2 separate regions of the Homo sapiens genome follow, and region 2 is linked to region 1. A link means that fine-mapping ties the variant in region 1 to the expression of a gene that starts in the linked region. Tissue or cell type: unexposed skin. Region 1 holds a variant in brackets; the other region holds the start of a gene. All regions are shown on one strand. Distances are between the middles of the regions.

What was found. PIP is the estimated chance that this variant, and not a neighbour inherited with it, causes the effect.
Region 2: STK32C starts here. The variant in region 1 is fine-mapped to the expression of STK32C in unexposed skin (GTEx, PIP above 0.99). The same link has a PIP of 0.9 or more in sun-exposed skin and whole blood.

The regions. Positions count from the first base shown.
Region 1 is chr10:132,342,248-132,344,950 of GRCh38, reverse strand. It overlaps LRRC27 (leucine rich repeat containing 27), which reads right to left. Exons shown (of 11, transcript NM_030626.3): 4 at 2,680-2,703; 5 at 301-453. Among named protein-coding and RNA genes, the nearest start is that of LRRC27, 11 kb to the right of the region's middle. The variant C/T (reference allele first, on the strand shown) is at 1,233.
Region 2 is chr10:132,306,349-132,308,962 of GRCh38, reverse strand. It overlaps STK32C (serine/threonine kinase 32C), which reads left to right and starts at 1,013. Exons shown (of 12, transcript NM_173575.4): 1 at 1,013-1,391. The coding sequence starts at 1,130. RefSeq lists an enhancer at 1-287 and a silencer at 540-1,189.

The sequences.
Region 1 (2,703 bases):
AGCAGCCGCCTGCGGGTGGCTTGGAGGTGATAACTGTTTCATTTGATTGATCACAATAAACTTCTACCAAAATCCACTTGAGCCAGGATCTATAATGTGCCCAGATTTATAGAACCAAGGAAAAGTCACAGAGATGACTGGGTCGGCCTGAGATCAGTGTACACTGTGTCAACTCAGCAGAGGACCCATGGCTCCTGTATTTCTCAGGATGTTATTAAAGAGAAGACAGGTTCTGCCCTGATTTTAAAAAGCTGTAACTTCAACGTTAATGTGATTTGTCATAAATCACCTCCTACAAACCTTGAGAAGTTGGATTTCTGGGGAGAGAGTGTTCTACTGCCCACATCCGCAGGAAGCGCTGGATAGCCACCAATCCCTTCTGCACAACGAGCTGAGGAGGGAATTCCAGAGGGCAGTGTCTTAGGTTCAGTGCTTTCAGCGTGGTTACGCTCCCTGCAGTGGAGGAAAAAAAAACTGTCAGCATTCTATATACCATTCTTGAAATGAAAATGAGGAATAAATAATAGTAACTTTTCACATTTTAAAATATGATTCTATTCAGTATTTGGGGGAAAATCACGTTAACAGATGTCAAAGATTTGCTTTAAAGGTAACTCTGCAGGAGACGGATTCCGCAAATTAAGACCAGGATGGTTTCCAAAAAACAAATAAATAAAATCAAACAAACAGAAGCAGCCACAACCACCTTCACAATTCTGTAAAATTCAGAATACAAAGTCGCTATATTATCTAAAATGCCCATTTTCCACATAAAAACTACCAGACATGCAAAGAAAAGGAAAATGTACCCTACACTCAGGAACGGAGCAGACAATGGAAACTGTCTTGGAGGAGGCCCAGATGTTGGGTTTAACAAAGACTTCAAAGCAACCATTTAAATATGTTCAAGCAAATGAAGAAAATTGTGTTTAATTAGAAGAAAATAGAATACAAGGACTCCACAAATGTGAAATGTCACTAAAAATGGAAATTATGTGAACTTGGAGGCTTTGGAAACGATGGCCGCTGAGAGGTAAGGCTCCCGTGGTGGGCAGTGGGCTGGTGGGGGCTGGCTCACTCCCCAGGCTCAGGGCGAAGTCCCCGGAATGAGGAGCACGGGGAAGCACTGCAGGGGCCCTAGTCCTGTGGCGTTTCCCAATCTGAGGGAGCCAGGGTTCAGTGTGAAAGATGGATGCTTGGATTTTGGGTATTTGGGTGTCCCACCTTTCAGC[C/T]GCGCTCGCTTTTCACATGTAGGTTAAGTATTAGGCTCTACAAACTGCAAATGCCTTGTTGGCCCTGTCCATTAATGGGCTCTGCCCTGAGCTCACTGGTCCAGTTGGAAAACAGAGACTAAACTAGAAGCTACCTATCTAAATGAAATTCGTTTCCTTATCAAATCCTGTGGCAAGTGACTCTGTATTATCTTGTCATCCATTTTTAGTCTTCAAACACACCCAAACTCCTTCTTTAAAAAGCTTAAATTCTCTCTCTGTTCTTTGAAGTGTAAATTTGCTATTCTGTTTTCTCTAAAACTGTGTAAGGGTTCCAGCCATAACTCGTTCCATTTACAAAGGCACAATTTAACCTAACTGTTCTTTTATTTTTGTTTTTTGTTGTTGTTGTTGTTTTGTTTTTAGAGAGAGGGTCTCGCCCTGTTGTCCAGGTTGGAGTATAGTGGTGCAATCAGAGCTCACTGCAGCCTTGAAGTCCTGGGCTCAAGTTAGCCTCCTGCCTCAGCCTCCTAAGTACCTAGGAACACAGGCATGCACTACTGCACCTGGCTAATTTTATTTTATTTTATTTTTTGTAGAGATGGGGTCTCACTATGTTACCCAGGCTGGTTTCAAACTCCTGGCTTCAGGGGATCCTCCTGCCTTGGCGCCCCAAGGTGCTAAGATTACAGGCATGAGCCACTATGCGTGGTCTCAACTGTTCTTTTAAACTAATGAGTTTTATCTGATTCATGGCTAAAAATAAAATCAAAGCTATACAATCTTAATGTTTGTACTTTTATGTATACATGCGTATACATGTCTGTTTTTATACTGTCTACATGGTAGCAAGTGACTTACAAATAAATGAGTACTCATAAATTAGTTCTCCAAAATGCTTCTCAAGTTCATAATAGAAATGCCTTCAGAATTTTAGACATTTTTTCCTGGGCTACTAGTCCGACAAATTTATACTGTTTCTGCTAGATATTTTAAAGGTCATAAAACTTGCTTCTGTGATAGTTTACGCTTGTTTGATTTGTCTGTCAGTTTATGCTTTTGGTTTTGAGTGTTTAGATTCTGAAGTCTAAAAAAGTGGTCATGATGGGGCCTAGGAACATACGTAAGTGGTAAAACTTCCCAGGAAGGCCAGCGAGATGCAGCGGAGACAGCACGCAGGGCCTGCAGAGGTGTGTGCGGGGCCTTCAGTTTCCTTAGCTGTGTGACGGCGCCAATGGCCCTCACTGTGACTGTGCCTCACACAAGGCTCACACGTCACACCTCCATAAGAACAGTACGTGCTATATCAACAGTTCTTGAGAGCTACATTATCTTGGTCCTAGAAGTAGGAAGGATTTTTAAAATATCTAGCTTACCCTCCTTTGTCATGCCTGATACTTCCATTACAAGGTCTGGCAAGTTCAAAAGATAGCATTTTAAAATCATCTTTTTATTATTTTATACTTACCCAGCTCCACAGGTAACATTTTGA
Region 2 (2,614 bases), 36 kb after region 1:
AAGTCAAACAGCCCGGTAGCAAAAACTGATTCTTCAGTGACAAGCGCCAGGGGCAGGCGGCGAGGCTCCATGCAGAGCCGCGCCTTCTCCAGGGCACTCCAAGGCGCCCAGCACTTTCCGCGCAAGGTCGCGCCTGGCCCTGCGCAGGGGCAGAGGTGCCCGGAGGTCAAGCCGCGCCCCAGGCCTCCGAAATACGCCGAGTGCCGAGGCCCCTGTCGCATCTGGACAAGGGGACCCTGGGCGACTCGGGCACGCGGTCTCAGGCCGGACGGGGGTCGCGAGGATGGCACGGGGGTGCCCGAGAGCGCGGGCGCACGTGCTCAGGGCTTAGCGCCCACCCCAGGCGCCCGCGTGTGCGCGCGCGCAGCCAGGCCCGCCCTGCCCCACCCCACCCTCTGGCGCAGCGCTTGGACTCAGCCTGCCGCCTCCTGACCGTGAGCCGGGCTCTGCCCGGCAGATTCCCGCCGCCCGCATCCCGGGCCTGCAGCCCGGCCTCACCCTGCGCAAAGCAGAAGGCTGGAGTTTAGGGCTCCCCGCACTGGGCGGCGGAAGCCCGCGCGCCGGCTGTTTTCACGAAGAAGGCAGGGGAGGGAGGCCCCCGGAGACCGCGAGAAGGTCCCGCCGCCGTGCCGGGCACAGCAGTCCCCGTGCCAGGGACGCCGACCTCCGGGGCCCCAGGATACCCGTGGGGACGCTCCCTGCCTCCCTCGCTCTCGTACCCGCCGTCTAGTCTGAGCCGTGGTCCCCGTGTCCCGGCGAACCACAGCCCCCATCCCTAGACTGGTGGCGGCCACCCACTCCCTAGCGACACTCCAGGCACTAGCCCCGCCCCTGCCCCGCCCCCGGCTCGGCCCCGCCCCTACCCTTCCCGAAGCTCCGCACCTGCCACGCCCCGGCGCTCAGCTCCGCCTCGACCCCTTCCAGGAGCTCCGCCCCGCCCCCGCCCCTTCCAGAAGCCCCGCCCCTGCCCCGCCCCCAGCGCTCGCAATCTACGGGGCGGGTTCCACCGCCCAGAAGAGCGCACGGCGGGCGCTGCCGGCCCCGAGCGCTCCCGCTACCACTGCCGCTCCCGGCCCTGCCGGCCGGCCATGCCCCGAGTTCCGGCTGCCGCGCGCACCCAGACCCGGCGATGAGGAGTGGCGCCGAGCGCAGGGGCAGCAGCGCCGCGGCGTCCCCGGGCTCGCCGCCCCCCGGCCGCGCGCGCCCCGCCGGCTCCGACGCGCCCTCGGCCCTGCCGCCGCCCGCTGCTGGCCAGCCCCGGGCCCGGGACTCGGGCGATGTCCGCTCGCAGCCGCGCCCCCTGTTTCAGTGGAGCAAGTGGAAGAAGAGGATGGGCTCGTCCATGTCGGCGGCCACCGCGCGGAGGCCGGTGTTTGACGACAAGGAGGACGGTGAGTGCGGGCACGGGGACGACGTGGGGGCCGCGCGCTATTGCAGGGGCGGGCGCGGCTGGGCGGCTTTTTCCCGCAGGGGTTCCCCCGGTGTCCGGGACGGCTTCCCGGGGCGCCCCGGCTTCCGGAGAAGCTCGCGCCGGGTGGCTGCGGCCCCACGCGAGTTCTGGGCGCCCGCCCGCGTCCTCCGTTTCTAGTGGCGGCGCCGCAGGAGGAGCAGGCTGGGCCCGGGCCCTCGGGGCGAGGGTCCCCCGCGGCTGTGGCGTCTCCGGGCTTGCGCGCGCCTCCGCCCACCGCCCGTGGCAGCCCTGCTTTCCGCTTTCCGTGATCCGCTCGGGCCCACGTGCGGGCTCGTTTGTACTTTGCAGTTAGAGAGGCGCTCACCTGTGCCGCCCGAGTGCGAGTGAGGCTCCTGCCCCACAGGTGGCGGGGCCCGGCCGCTCAGAGGCTCAGTCTCCTTGGTGACCGCGCGGTGTCCATCCTCTGCTCACCCATGTGCGCTGGAGGCAGGGCCAGGCCGTTGTGCAAAGACCTGCCCTGCCAGGAACGAGTGCGCTGCTGAGTCCTGTAGATAAAGCCGCCAACCCCGGGGACTGGTGTCTCCTGAGTGACCGTGCAGCCGTGGGCGCCATAGAAAGCAGAGAAGGCAGGTGAGGTGACATGGGACAGGCCTGCAGGGACACCTCCCGGGGTGCCAGGGGGCCCCGGGGACCCCCGAATTATCACCTGCAGGGAGATGTGGTGCCGCGTCTGCCTGTGGGCACTGTAATACAGTCACATGCAGACATACAGCTCTTTTCTACAGGTAACATGCAAATCATTTAAAATCGTACATTGATGACACATTTCATGTTTTTTGACATTTTCTTAAAATACTTGAAATGTGCATTTTTCATTTATAGATAGCGTGCAGAGGTATGATGGATCCTTCAAAATTTTAGAGCCCAGCGCTCAGGAGCCAGGCTATTTACTTGCGATAAATAATTTAAGCATTATGGGAAATTACAGTAATACGACCTCAGGCCGGCGTTGGTGAGTGTGGGGCCGTGCACCGCCGTTCCTCCGGGAGACGGCACCGGGGATTCATGGTGTGCTGCCTAGAAGGAGGGCTGAAGGCCCAGCCACACCAGGCCCCACACGCTCCAGGGTGGCCCGTCACTGTGTCCTGAACTTCGGGACAGCAGAACTCACGATGGTGAATGTTTGAGAAATGTTTTTGTTTT